Homo sapiens: one gene and its partners. The protein of the gene in region 1 interacts with the protein of each later gene in a biochemical or structural test. Each region holds a gene or a part of one and is shown in the gene's direction. Other genes may lie near its edges.

Evidence for each region. The genes of interacting proteins can lie anywhere in the genome.
Region 2: the proteins of NFIC (region 1) and ELK3 form a complex in vitro, tested with the Homo sapiens proteins (one study listed by BioGRID).
Region 3: the proteins of NFIC (region 1) and ETV7 form a complex in vitro, tested with the Homo sapiens proteins (one study listed by BioGRID).
Region 4: the proteins of NFIC (region 1) and PRDM1 form a complex in vitro, tested with the Homo sapiens proteins (one study listed by BioGRID).

What each region holds. Positions count from the first base shown.
Region 1 is NC_000019.10:3,368,837-3,374,229, forward strand, and holds part of NFIC (nuclear factor 1 C-type), read left to right. Parts: intron 1-5,393.
Region 2 is NC_000012.12:96,197,375-96,200,874, forward strand, and holds part of ELK3 (ETS domain-containing protein Elk-3), read left to right. Parts: intron 1-651; exon of another isoform or gene 652-768; intron 769-3,500. UniProt on the Homo sapiens protein: May be a negative regulator of transcription, but can activate transcription when coexpressed with Ras, Src or Mos. Forms a ternary complex with the serum response factor and the ETS and SRF motifs of the Fos serum response element.
Region 3 is NC_000006.12:36,365,694-36,368,181, reverse strand, and holds the end of ETV7 (transcription factor ETV7), read left to right. Parts: intron 1-1,206; coding exon 1,207-1,307; intron 1,308-1,419; coding exon 1,420-1,537; 3' UTR 1,538-1,988; downstream 1,989-2,488. UniProt on the Homo sapiens protein: Transcriptional repressor; binds to the DNA sequence 5'-CCGGAAGT-3'. Isoform A does not seem to have a repressor activity. Isoform C does not seem to have a repressor activity.
Region 4 is NC_000006.12:106,092,836-106,096,335, forward strand, and holds part of PRDM1 (PR domain zinc finger protein 1), read left to right. Parts: intron 1-2,779; coding exon 2,780-2,899; intron 2,900-3,500. UniProt on the Homo sapiens protein: Transcription factor that mediates a transcriptional program in various innate and adaptive immune tissue-resident lymphocyte T cell types such as tissue-resident memory T (Trm), natural killer (trNK) and natural killer T (NKT) cells and negatively regulates gene expression of proteins that promote the egress of tissue-resident T-cell populations from non-lymphoid organs.

The sequences.
Region 1 (5,393 bases):
TCACGTCCCCTCCGTTTCTCTCATCTTGGTCTCTTTTTGTCTGTCTTTCTCTCTTTCTCTCTGTCTTGCTCTGACTCTGTGTGTGTGTGTGTGTGTGTGTGTGTGTGTGTGTCTGTTTCTCCCTGTCTCTCCATCTCTGTCTCTCCCCGCCTCTGTTTCACTCCCAGTCACTGTTGGTCTCTTTGTGTCTCTCTTTCTCATCCTCTGTCTCTCTGATGTCTCAGTCTCTCCCACTGTCTCTGTCTCTTCATGTCTATCTCACCATCCCTTTCTCCTCTTTGTCTCTGCATGTCTCTTTGATGTGTCTCTGTCTCTCTGTCTCTCCCTCCCTTTGCCTTCTTTGTGTGTCTGTCCGATGTGTCTCTGTCTGTTTCTCTGTCTCTGTCTCTCTGCCCCCTTCCTCTCTGTCTCTGTTTCTCTCCAATATGTCTGTCTGTCTCTTCATCTCTGTCTCACCTTCCCTTTCTCCTCTGTCTCTGCGTGTCTCCCCTTGCCCCCTCTCTCCCTGTCTCTCTCTATCTCTGCATGTGTCTCCTTACTCCTCTCTCTCTGTCTCTCTCTGTCTCTGGGCCTCCCTCTCCCCCTTTTCCCAGCTAATTTTACAACCTGAGCCCAACCGAAAATAGCTCCCTTTTAGCTGATCCGACCCGGATCCTTCTCGGGAGCCGAGGCTGGCGGGGGGTGGGGGGCATCTCGGTGCCAGCCCGCTCTGTGCCACCCGGGCCCGGCCCGCCGAGTGGGGAGTGGGTGCTGGCGGCCCTGGGGCATTCTGGGAGCCCCGGGCCGGGCTCAGCGGTGACTCAAGCGCTTTTTCACTTTTACTCTTAAGAGGAACTGTGTGGAGCCCATGGCTCCCATAAATCCTGCCGGCGGGAAGGCCGGCCTCCCCGCGCCTGCTCTGGGCCTCCCTCCCTGCCTCCCTCCCGCTGGCGCCACCGCCACGTTAGTTATTCCGGGTTTGGGGCCAAGTCCCTCTTGGCCGCAGCGTGGCGGATTCCCCGAGCCACCTCCATCCCGCCACCGGGTCCCTGTCTCATTCGTTCGTTGTTTCCTTCATTCGTTCGTCCCATGCCCTCTCGGAGCACAATGTGCTTTGCTGCCATTTCTCCAGCAGGGTAACCGAGGCTGGGAGAGGCTGTCCTCCCACCCCAGACCCCCGACCTTTGTTGGATTTTCTAGATCTTCCTTAAGCATCTCCTGGGCCCTGGGGATAGGTGGGGGTGGGGGAGGCAGCAGGGCCCAGGCCCAGTGTAGGTTCTTAGAGGGAGCTTGGGGGGTGCCTACCAGGAGCAGGGGGCCTGCAGCCCCTCAGTGCCGGGAGAGGGGCTAAGAGTCAGAGAGGGCCAGGGCCTGCCCGAGGTGGCACAGTGGGGCTGGCAGAGCTGGGGTTCAGGCCATTTTCCATCTGGCGGCTTGGGCAGGTGGGCGCTCTCTCCCCGTGTGCCCCCCACCCGGGGCCTGGTGGCCTCTGATTCACTCTCTACAAGGCTCCACCACTCTCCCGCTGTATCTCCCTCTGGGTCTCTCTGTGCATCTCTCTCTGTTTCTCCCCCTCCCCTCTCTGCGGCGGAGGTGCCTCTGCGCGCCAGGGCCAAGCGCCCTGTAAATCACCAAAGCTGGGATTCTGGCAGAGTCAGCGTTCTCCTCTCTCTCTCTCTCTCTCTCTGTCTCCCTCCCTTTCTCCCCCCATCTCGCTCTCTCCTCCTCTCTCCCTCTCTCCTTCTCTGTCTCCCTTTCCGTCTTTCCCTCTTCCTTTCTCTCTCTCTCCCCGTCTCCCTTCTCTCCCTCTCTCCTTCTCTCTTCTCTCTCTCTTTCTCCCTCCCTACCTCCCTCTCTGTTCCTCTTCTTTCTCTCTGTCTGTCTCTTTCTTTCTCCCTCCCTTCCTCTCTCTCTGTTCCTCCTCTTCTTTCTCTCTCTCTGTCTCTCTGAGCTGGCCTCCCTCCCTGTCTCACACCAAATGGATGGGAAATGCTGCCTGGGCCTCCTGCCCCGGACACGGCCCGCCCCCCACTCTCCTGCCTGTGTCCACGCCGACCTCACCTGGGTGCCCATCTGCCCTGAGCACACAGCGTGCGGGCACCCAAGTCCTGACCAGTTCACATCCATGAGCACACGCTGGGCGCACACGCGTGCACACTCCCTGACACCCATACGGACGAGGACACAGCTCTGCCTGCCTCGGATCTGCCTTGATGGGGGTCACCAACACACAGACCTAGAGTGCCCCTCACATCTGCCTGAAAATCTTGCTCAGGAGGTGCCAAACCCAATATAGTACCTGGTATAGAGAAGGTGCCAAATAACTGCTATAGAGTGGTGCCAAATAAGTGTTGCTGTGCTTGTGATTGTTGCTAAACTAATTCTCCTCTTTCCTGACTCTGGTGGGTGACCTGCCCCCACCCCCGGACCGTTTCTTGCCCTGAAATGAAGTCAGCAGAAACCCCCACTTCCTCAGGGCTGCTGCAGATTCAGGGAGGCAGCACAATTTTTTTTTTTTTTTTTTTTTGAGGTAGAGTCTCGCTCTGTCGCCCAGGCTGGAGTGCAGCGGTGCGATCTTGGCTCACTGCAGCCTCCGGGGAGGCAGGACATTTCTGAGGTCCACAGTGCAGGGCTTGGTACTCAGTAGGTGCCCAATAAATACCTGTTGCACGAATGAATGAATGAATGAATGAATGAATGAATGTTTTTGGTTGAGAGGCGGGACTTTGGTCTTCCCGAGCCTCCATTTCTCCGCCAACATAAAATAAAAAACATAATGGCACTTTCCTCAGAGACATCGATGTACCTTAGTCCGACACCTGGTATACAGTAGGTGCCAAATAAGTGCTGCTGTGCTTATGGTTGTTGCTAAACTAGTAATTGCATTGAACACCCCAGAGGCATTTTCCAGTTTCCCTCCCTTCCCTCTGTGTGTATTTGCGCAGCGTAAGCCCAGCTTTGGGCTGGGTGACAAGGACAGTGGTGACCTGGAAAGGCCCAGGCTCAGACCCCTCTCTACTGTGGCATTTCTGTTAGTTTTTCTTTTCTTTCTTTTTTCTTTCTCTCTCCTTCCTTCCTTCCTTCCTTCCTTCCTTCCTTCCTTCCTTCCTTCCTTCCTTCCTTCCCTCCCTCCCTCCCTCCTTCCTTCTTTCCTTCTCTTTCTCTCTCTCTCCCTCTCTCTCCCTCTCTCTCTCTCTCTCTCTCTCTCTCTCTCTCTCTCTCTCTCTCGGAGTCTTGCACTGTCGCCCAGGCTGGAGTGCAGTGGCGTGATCTCAGCTCACTGCAACCTCCGCCTCCTGGGTTCACGCGATTCTCCTACCTCAGCCTCCCAAGTAGCTGGAATTACAGGCACGTGCCACCACGCCTGGCTAACTTTTGTATTTTTAGTAGAGACGGGGTTTCACCATGTTGGCCAGGCTGGTCTCAAACTCCTGACCTCAGGTGATCCACCTGCCTCGGCCTCCCAAAGTGCTGGGATTACAGGCATGAGCCACCGTGCCCGGCCTCTGTTAGTCTTTTCTCCCTGCCCAGCCCTGTCCAGGGTCTCCCTGAGTTTGACCAGCCCTGTGTGGGTACCAGCCTTCCTTACACATGGGGGTGCATGGATAAGGGGGGTCCCAGAGGCAGAAGATGGGAGCATTGCTTCAGTGGTCTGGATGCTGGAGATGCTAACAGATCAAAGCTGTGCCCTTGTGGGACCGACAGTCTAGGCCGGGTCGGGGACGGGCAGGAAACGAGGTGACCAGGACTCCTTGAGGATGTGGTGTGCGACCGACCTCGGGGATCAAACAAGGGGAAGGGAACCACGTGGGACTCGGAGAGTGTGCACGGTGCAGACCAGGTGTCACTGGACGCTCTGGCCCGAGACTGTTTGCTCAAGGGGCCCAGGAGTGGGGTGGGGGGGTGCCAGGAGGCCCAGGGACCAGTCCCAGCTCAGTTCCTCCCTGACTGTGTGACTTTGGTGGAAGATTTCATGCCTCAGTCTCCTCCTCGAGGTAGTGGGTGCAATGATAGTCCCCACTTTCATAGTAGACTTTTTTTTTTTTTGAAACAGAGTCTCGCTCTGTCGCCCAGACTAGAGTGCAGTAGCACAATCTGGGCTCACTGCAACCTCCGCCTCCCGGGTTCAAGCGATTTTCCCGCCTCAGCTTCCCAAGTAGATGGGATTGCAGGTGTGTGTCACCGCACCTGGCTAATTTTGGTGTTTTTAGTAGAGATGGGGTTTCACCATGTTGGCCAGGCTGGTCTTGAACTCCTGACCTCAGGTGATCCGCCCGCCTCGGCCTCCCAAAGTGCTGGGATTACAGGTGTGAGCCACCGCGCCCGGCCCCTATTTCGTAGTAGACGTGATAGCTCAGCAAACGCTCAGCCTGTAAGAGGCACAGCCTCGCTCCCTGCCTCTCTCCTCCACCTCCTGGCCCCTCTGGCTCAGCCCTCATTGTCCTCCCAGAACATCAAGGCACAGAGGGAAGTAGGGGACCCAGGGTTCATTTTGCTGACTCACTGCCTTGGCAGAGAGTTTGAACCCTGTGGACTCAGTTTACCCAAATTCCTCACTGTGGCCCACAAGGCCCTGCCCAGCCTGTCCTTGTCCCCTCCTCAACCCTCCCCTCCTCTCTCTTTCCCCCTTGCTCATTCTGCTCCAGCCACATGGGCCTCCTCGCTGTTCCTCTAACACGCCAGGTGCGGTCCTGCCCCAGGGCCTTTGCATGACCCATTTCTCCATCAGAAAGCTCCTGGCCTGGAGTGCCATCTCTCAAGACTTTGTTCAGGTGTCTCCTCCTGCAAGAGACCTTCCTGGACCCCCCCCCCAAGCTAAAAAACACCCCCCACCCCAGAGATTCTCTGGTCCCTCAAACTCTTAAATTTCTTCAGAGCACTTTGCCCAACTTGACGTTTTATTACATATTTTGCTGATTTTAACCATCCGTCCCTGCCCCAGATCTGGATCCAGGTGAGGGCCGAGCCCAGGTCCCTGCCAAGTCCTCGGCACCCTACCTGGGACCGGCATGCAGCAGGCACTCACTAAATGTTTGCTGAGCAACAGAATGAATCTTCCCTCTCTGGGAGCCGTTCACATGTCCACAGGCTGTGATTTTCTGAGCCAGGGGAAGGAGCGGCCCAAGGTTAGAGCCTGACGCTGGTGCCGGATGGGCCTGGGGTTGTCCGTGGGACCATGGACAAGTCATCCGACCCGGAGAAGAAGGCATTAGAACTAAGGCTTTGAAGGATGCGTAGGAATTTGGGATAAGTGCTAAGTAGGTAATGAGCTAGATTCTCATGAAGGATTGTTGAGTCACTTTTACCTGGAAACTTTTGGTTTGGAAATTGGAGTTTCTTGTCCTGGTTTGCTGGCCTGGACTTTCAGGGTGGGAGGAGCACAGGGAGGTGAGTGAGGGCATCACCCAGTGCAT
Region 2 (3,500 bases), on another chromosome or scaffold:
GCCCAAAATGTCTATAGTGGATTGAGAAAAATCTTATTTACTTTAATGATGATGAAGATGATGAAAGCTCTTTAACACGCATTCAGTCAACAAATAGGACATTTAAAAGTCATCATCTGTAATTTTGGCCACATACGTAACATAGCATTCATGAATTTTCTCTTTCTCTTTTTGGTCAGTAACATGCAATAATAGAGTGACATACGGATGGTGACCTTGTGATGGTGTACCCTTTATGTCCTGAATTAGGCCATCCATCTCTGAAACTCTGCAAGTATAGCATCTTCATGCACTTGGTACCAATGCTGTTGAGACCAGAATGGCAGTAGTCCAGATAGGGGAGAGCAGTGATTTGCCAGCTCCATTTGAGTTTTGAAGTTAACCTAAACATTTATTAAAGACCTCCTCTTTTTCTTATATAAAAAATTAAATAAGTCAAAAGTGCTAATATACAGTACATGTAACTCTGAGGTCATATATTAAAATTTATATTTGTAATAACTTTTTGGAACTTGAATCTTTTCCTGAAATTGGTTTTAAAGGACTTCCAGGCAGTGTATGTAAATTAAAATATTCCCTTCTTAGCTGTCAGATATTGGATTTTGTGTGTTCTGTGGGACCCAATTATATTTATATATCTATCTGATTCAGAAGACCAGTATGGTGCTGTGAAATGTTGCAAAACATGACCTGATGACAACCCAAAACACTTCATAGAAAACTATCCAAGAATGTGACTTCCTGGAGTAGAGTCTTTTTTCACTGAGGGTGAGTTGCTGCTTACTAATCGTTAGTTTTGTTGCCTTCCAATTCTAAGGAATGACTCAGTCATCTCCATGTTTCCCAGACCTGGACTTCCTCATGAAACTTTATTTTTTTAATTGTTTATGTTGCCAGGGCTGGCCTTGCACTCCTGGGCTCAAGTGATGCTCCCACCTCAGCCTCCGCAGTAGCTGGGGTTACAGGTGTGAACCTCTGTACCAGCTGTCTCATTAAAGTTTAAAAGAAATGGGCTGTCTGTCCATTCTGGCTTTGTTCTGGCTGTAGAGCCCAGATGACTGTCTTCTGACCCTTTCCTAAGGTTCTGTACATAAATACGCAGATGAGAGGGGAAGGGGACTCCATTTTTGTTAGATTTTCTTGTATGTTTCAGGCAAAAGTTTTTTATGTCCTGGTTATCTTTAATTCCTCTTTGCCTGTATAGATCGACTTATAACACACTTTGAGACCATGCTAGCAGAATAGTATCTTCTAAAGGTTGGTTGTTTTTTTTCCTATTGTAAAAAATATTAATGTGAATTGCCTTACAAAGATACAGAAAACTGCTATAAAAAAATAGACATCTCCCATAATTCCACTGTTTACCTTTTGATGTGTAATTGTTCAGTTTTTTAAAAAAATGCATATGTGTGTCTATGTATATCCACACATGCACATACCATTTTTAATTGAAAGCACACTGTACTTACTGTTTTATAACTTTTTTCACTTAACATGTAACACATTTTAATAATTAGTACCGAGACCGAAATTATCACATAGAGCTTCTATTTATTGATCTAATAAATGTGTTGGCTCAACCATGGATTGACATAATTTCTTCATAGACTTGTTCAGTGTTTTTTGTCCTCTGTGGTTCAAGTAATGTTCTAAGAATGCTGCCCTCTTGAAAGACTGAGTTCCTATGTGCTGTGAAATTTTGGATTTTGATGAGTTTCTCTGTGATTTAAGGATGAGTCATGATTTGCAGTAGAATATCAAGATGTAGTAACAGGAAGTACAGGGCACTACACATGAAAATAGAATGTTAAATGATGAAGAGAAACCAGGTTAAACTGAAAATATACCTTGAAATTATCCAACTATGAAGGGAGAGGAAGGTGTGTTTTGTACATTTTAACAACTCCTATTACTGTTTCATTTTCTATCAGTGGAGTTTCCAAACTTTGAAGTTGGTGTTTTAAATTGATTTTTAGCTCAAGATTGCTGTTGTTCATAGCCACTTTGAATTGAGGTCATTCAGCCTTTTGATTGAAACCATGGCAGTGAGACCATGAAAACTCTAGTTTTGCCACTTATAGAGCAGCCCCAGTAAATAAAATTAGCTGTGTGTGTGTGTGTGTGTGTGTGTGTGTGTGTGACCTTCTGTGAAATTCTAAATGTCTTCAAAAATGGTAGATTACTCAGTCTTTTAAATAACTATTCTGTGCAGAAATTCAACTCCCCATGGTTCCTGCCTGAAACCAAAATAAAAATTGCCTTTCATCCATTACTGGAGATTTACATATATGTCAGCAGTTTTAAAGTAAACTTTGAACTAGTCATTTCAATAAATTGTGATTTGGTTTGAATTCCCACTAGGAATAAAGTCATTGACTACTTTATTGCTATGTATTAATTTACATTTCCTGGAAAGTACTACTTTTTTCTAAGAATTAAATAAGATTATAACATGGCTTTACTTGTATATTTTTAAAGAAATTTAGACAATGTTATATTAGTGTATTCTAATTTGAATTAGACTGAAATGAATTTACTCACACACTCTAAAACAAGGATCTATTTATGACACATAGTGTCATAAATATGCTTAAAGTTTCTATAGCTAAGAACAATTTCTGAATATCCATGTGTAATATGGGAGTGATGGGATAGGTATAAAACACTTATCTAGATACCTTCTCTTTTTATTTTTTAAATTGATATAAATGTACATATTTATGGGGTACATAGTGATTTTTTACATATATATCATGTATAGTAATTAGATCGAGGTAATTAGATCCATCATCTCAAATGTTTATGATTTATTTGTGTTGGGAACATCCATTATCTTCCTTCTAGTTAATTGAAACTATATAGTATTATAGGCATCCTGCAGTGCTATAGAACACGAGAACTTACTCCTCCTGTTGGAGACCTTCTCTTAAGACTGATGAAGCTAGGGCTCCTGTACTCCAAGCAATAGAGTAAAGAAAACGAGGCTCTTGGTATCTTCCCCTCTCTCTTTTTTTTAAGTTGAGGTATGATTTACATATATTAAAATGCGCAGATCTTAAGTGTTATTGTATACATACATGTAACCCTACCCAAAGAGACAATATTTCCATGTCCCCAAGTGTTTTTTGGCTTATGTATTTAGAGACAGAGCCTGGTTCTGTCACCCAGGCTGGAGTGCACTGGCACTGTCATAGCTCAGTGCAGCCTCAAACTCCAGGGCTCAGGTGATCCTCCTGCCTCAGTCTCCCAAGCAGATAGGACTGCAGGTGTGCACCACCACACCTGGCTAATTTTTTTTTTCTTTTTGAGACAGTGTCTGGCTCTGTTGCCCAGGCTGGAGTGCAGTGGTGCAAGCTTGGCGCACTGCAACCTCCGCCTCCTGTGTCTAAGCAATTCTCATGCCTCAGCCTCCCAAGTAGCTGGTATCATAGGCATATGCCACCATGCCTGGCTAATTTTTGTATTTTTAATAGAGACGGGCTTTTGCCATATTGGCCAGG
Region 3 (2,488 bases), on another chromosome or scaffold:
GTGGAGACTGAGGCTCAGTGAGGGCTAACAACTTGCCCCAAGTTTACCCATCCCCTGCTATGTAAGAGGCAGAACAGGGAGTTGAACCCAGGCCATGTGCTGCACTATATTATACTGCTCTTAGCAGTGCTGGTGGCTGGAAGGATGCAGATGACTAAAGTTCGGGAGGACTTATTGGTCTAATCCTCATATAGAACAGGGAGGAAAACAGGCCCAGAGAGCAGCAGTCCCATTTAATGAGCATATACTACATGCCATACACTGTGCTAACTGCTTTCATGGATTAGCTATTAATAATTTAATCCTTGACTTATGCGATGGGTGTTCTCCTTTTCATTATGTAGCTGGGGAAGCAGACTCAGAGAGGTCAAGAAACTTGTCCAAGGTGACACAGCTGACAAGCGGTGGAGCTGGGGCTTAAATTGATGCCACACCCCAGGCTCTTTGGCCCTACCTCACACTGCCTACCCCCGAGAGAGAAAGAAATGACTTGGCCAAAGTCACCCAGGGTGTGGCCTGGCAAGGCCATCCATGCCACCCCACCATACTGTCTCTCTGATTGCATTTCCCACAAATATATATATTTATTTGTTACTGTTGTGACATTTGCTGTTTAAAAGTAACATGCAGTTCACTCCCACACTATGTTCTCAGCCAAGTAGGCAGGAGAACCTTTCCATCATTTCCTTCCTTCCTTCCTTCCTTTCGCCTTCCTTCCTTCCTTCCTTTCTTTCTTTTTGTAATGGAGTCTCAATCTTTTGCCCAGGCTGTAGTCTAGTGACATGACCTCGGCTCACTGCAACCTCTGCCTCCTGGGTTCAAGGGATTCTCCTGCCTCAGCCTCCTGAGTAGTTGGGACTACAGGCACGCACCATCACGCCTGGCTAATTTTTGTATTTTTAGTAGAGACAGGGTTTCACCATGTTGGCCAGGCTGGTCTCAAACTCCTGACCTCAAGCGATCTGCCCACCTAGGCCTCCCAAAGTGTTGGGATTACAGGTGTGAGCCACCCTGCCCAGCCCCATCATTTCTTCCCCAACCTTCCCCTGCCTTTTTCCTTCCAAACTCAAGTGAGCACTCATAAACCCTCACAGATCCCTGGAATGAGAGGCTTAAGAAGCTGTCCAGTCCACCCTACTCCCTTCCAGGTGTGGAAGGAGCAGGACATGGGGAGTGGGGCTGATGTGGGGCTGCTTTGCTTTCCAGAACCGGGTGAACATGACCTACGAGAAGATGTCTCGTGCCCTGCGCCACTATTATAAGCTTAATATCATTAAGAAGGAACCGGGGCAGAAACTCCTGTTCAGGTGAGTGGCCTAGGGGATGTGGTGAAAGGGGAAGCAGAACTGGGGTTGGGTGGGCTGGAATCCCCCTGCAGCTGGGGCAGGAGCTGATTTGCAGTTGGGGCCTGAATTCTAGATTTCTAAAGACTCCGGGAAAGATGGTCCAGGACAAGCACAGCCACCTGGAGCCGCTGGAGAGCCAGGAGCAGGACAGAATAGAGTTCAAGGACAAGAGGCCAGAAATCTCTCCGTGAGGGGCAGGTGGACTCCAGGCACCCGGTACCGATGGGGCAGGGACCGAGTCTCCCATGAAGGCAGACTCCTCCTCCCAGCAGAGCAGCAGGATCCCCAGCCAGACTCTGTACCCACAGGATTACAGCCATTGCTTGGGAAGGCTGGGAGGCCTCCCATCCAGGACACTGGGGGCAGGAGTGTCATCTTTTGGGCAGGGCAATCCTGGGGCTAAATGAGGTACAGGGGAATGGACTCTCCCCTACTGCACCCCTGGGAGAGGAAGCCAGGCACCGATAGAGCACCCAGCCCCACCCCTGTAAATGGAATTTACCAGATGAAGGGAATGAAGTCCCTCACTGAGCCTCAGATTTCCTCACCTGTGAAATGGGCTGAGGCAGGAAATGGGAAAAAGTGTTAGTGCTTCCAGGCGGCACTGACAGCCTCAGTAACAATAAAAACAATGGTAGCTGATGTTTCTTTCTTTTATTTTTTTGAGACAGTCTTGCGCTGTCACCCAGGGTGGAGTGCAGTGGCACGATCTCGGCTCACTGCAACTTCCGCCTCCTGGGTTCAAGAGATTCTCGTGCCTCAGCCTCCGGAGTAGCTGGGATTACAGCTGCCCACCACCACACCCGGCTAATTTTTGTATTTTTGGTAGAGACACAGGGTTTCACCATGTTGGCCAGGCTGGTATCGAACTTGCGACCTCAGGTGATCCTCTTGCCTCAGTTTCCCAAAGTGCTTGGATTACAGGCGTGAGCCACTGCGTCCAGCCGATGTTTCTTAAGTGTTTGCTATGTGCCAGGCCTTGTGCTAAGGGCCTTGTGGATATCTTATCTCATTTAATTCACTCGGCATTCAGGCGTGAAGATGAGGACACTGAGGGAGAGGCTTGTGGAGCTGGCCCGCCTCTCCACAACCCAGGGCTTCGACCTGTTTTCTTTCAGCACCTCTGACTGTATGTGGATGCT
Region 4 (3,500 bases), on another chromosome or scaffold:
CGCTAGACTTAGAATGGATATAGGTGGTTTGTAAGTGCCTTCCAGTTTTGAAATTTTATGATTTTGTATCTTTATCTATAGGTGTGAGTTTATATGTGCCCTATAGCACTGTATGTAATTGAAATTTAAAATATTAGGGCGCTCTGTCCCTTTCCTAATGATAAGCTAATATTGAAGCTCTTTAATTTGTCTGGGGTTTGAGGATTATCATAGACCTCTCTTCTACCACAGAGCCTTCTCTTTTTAATTGTTCTCCTGTCTTGCCTGTTGAATTGAATTTGTAAGGTTAGAGATGGCAAGAGCTACTTCCGGTGCTGCTTTATAGCTTACTAGTGATGAGTCTATAGTTGTGCTCAAATAGGTATTGGGTAGCTTATGCTTTCTAGTTGACTTCTTTTTGGGCACAAGAAAATGTGTGTAAGATGGATAACTGAAAACCTAGAGGCCCATTCTGTAAAAGAATGGCAATTTGGAAGAAGAACCACGACCTCAGTGCAGTGCTCCGTTTTGGTAATCAAGCTCTGACTCCCAAGACACCATCTGTAAGAGACTATAATTTAAAACAAAGTTGATGAACCAGTTGAGTGCCTTTCTTAAAATTACTGTTGTAAAGTAGATATGTTGAAAATATCAACTGCTAATTATTGGCTCACCAACAAATGGCATGATTTGTTTTTCCTGTTTGTCATTCTAATATTATGGAATAATCACTGAAATATGAATGTTAAATGATTTGCATGTCATAGAATTCAATTCCATTAATTTTCCAAATTAATTAGATTCAATAATAATATGTCCAAAACAATGAGCCTCTGAATAAGTCTACTAAAGCTTTAAATATATATATTTATATCTCAAGACTGCTCTGAGATACTCTTGTCCCCAGTAGTTTTACTGCCAACAAATACCAATAATGACAAACGGTGATTAAAAGGGCAGATAGATGTAAATGAAGGCAGAGGAGGAGGATGAAATGAACATCTGCTTTTTTCAGCTCTCTGACAGAAATTCTTAAAGGACCAAAAATAACACTCTTGTTTCAACTTATGTTAGGTGTAGGAAAATTTTCTTTTTTTCTCTTTCCAGTCTGAGTATGCTTCATTGATTTGTATATTGAATACTAAATTGTTTTAGAAAAAAAAATCATTGGCTGATAAGACACTTAAATGAGAAAAGCTAGTCTGTCACAGGCATGTAGGTGTGCCATATCTATTTAAATAGAGGTTTAAATTATTGATGAGACTTAATGAGGAACTGGTGTATATTGTAACCAAAATTGTAGATTCCACTGTGAACAATCTGTGCATGGATCGATTCACATATTTGAGTCTACCATTTCAGGTACATGAATGTACAGGAGCTACTGGGAATATAAAAACTGGAAAATAAACATTATCATCTATTACCACTCCCTCCTCCTTGGTCCATTTTAGTAAAGAATTCAGTAAAGTGATAGGTAGGCTATCTTGAATGAGAAGAAAATAAAACTAGGAAAGTGAGAGAATAAAAACCAAAACAAAACTGTAACTGCAAACTGTTGTAAAGGACTACTCACAGAGGAGTTCTATTGAATAGTGACGAATTGCTTCCTGATTCACGGTTGGTGATTTTTTTACCCCTTCAAAGAGAAATTTATTATTAAGGAGGAACTGGTATAGTTAACATGTTTCTTTAGCAAGGCCCCACAAAGTTAAAATGTGTGATGCATCCAGTCTGAGGTCATTTCCTCAGATCTTAGAACCTACAGCTTTCCTCCGTATAAACTTAATTTCAAAGGAGGGCTTTTGGCCAGGCATGGTGGCTCAGCCTGTAATCTCAGCACTTTGGGAGGCCGAGGTGGGAGGATCGCTTGAGTCCAGGAGTTTGAGACAAGGCTGGGCAACATGGTGAGACCCCTTCTCAACAATAACAACAAAAATTAGCTGGGCGTGATGGTGCATGCCTGTAGTCCCAGCTACTCAGGAGGCTGAGGTGGGAGGATCTCTTGATCCCAGGAGGTCAAGGCTGCAATGAGCTAAGATCAAGCCACTGCATTCCAGCCTGAGTGATAGTGGGAGACCTTGTCTTTAAAACACACACACACACACACACACACACGAGGGCCTTTGACCACTCTTGAGTAGAAGACTCGAGAAGAACAAAGTAGAAGGCCAGAGAAGAACAAAGTTACTTGAAAGATCTCTTATTAAAGAGAATGTACAAGCTATGAAAAAAAAAAAACACACACACACACACAAACCTCATCTGGAATGAAAAAAACATAATGCATTTGGTTTCTGGTTCCTTAGGCTGTTATGGAACAACCAAAGAACATTATTTTGGTTTCTGAGGTCAGAACTATTTTATTCCCCTCAAGCACACTATGCTTATGGTTTGAGGGAGAATGAGAAATAGGAAACTAGGAACAGGCTGAAATGGTCTAATCTTGACCATCTAATTCTGCAGTGTCTTATTCTCATTCTAAAAGAGAATGGTTATATTCGCTGTTCTAGCATAAAAAGTAATGATAAAAATAAAAGATCCCGTATTACCAGACAATAATCCCCTAGACTGTTTTAATGCTTGGTTGAGTATTTGCTTATGATCTCAGACTTTAAAAGATGGTCTCCCCCTATGGTGAAGCTTGTTAATTATGTAGGCATCATTAATGTCTGTTTACTTATCAAAATTTTATCATTGTTAGTTGTATTACTACTTGACAGTCCAATTTATTTAATTGAAAAGATTGGTTAACATTTTATAGTCAAAGTAATTGTTTCCTGTGTTTTTTCCTGTTTAGGTTATTGGAGTGATGAGTAAAGAATACATACCAAAGGGCACACGTTTTGGACCCCTAATAGGTGAAATCTACACCAATGACACAGTTCCTAAGAACGCCAACAGGAAATATTTTTGGAGGGTAAGTAAGGGAAATTTCTTCAGACCCATTAAATGTTAGGAAAAAATGGAGCTAAAAGAGCTGGGTGGCTCACCTTTCTCATCCTGTGCTGAGAAATGCTGGGGCTCACCCATAAGTATCCAGCATCCCCATGGACACAGGGAATTCTGAACAAATGTGATGAAACCGATGAAATGTCTGGCCTGTAGGTGGTTAGTGATGGAGATACGGGCTATATGTGAATCTTGATTTTTGCAATTCATTAGAGCTTTGTAATGAAAGGAAACAGTTTGTTGCTTGCTTTAAGGATAGGTTCATTTGCATTTCTCCGCAAGGAAGTAGTAATGAGTTACCAAGCCTTAGATTTCACCCCTTTTTGATTTCTTGCTGACTTAACTTTAATTGAATGGAAGAGTTATCACAAATGAATTATCTTTTTGGTTTTTTTTTTTTTGAGATGGAGTCTCACTCTGTCACCAGGCTGGAGTGCAATGGCATGATCTCGGCTCACTGCAACCTCCGCCTCCCAGGTTCAAGCAATTGTCCTGCCTCAGCCTCCCGAGTAGCTGGGACTAAGGTGCGCGCCACCATGCCCAGTTAATTTTTGTATTTTTAGTAGAGA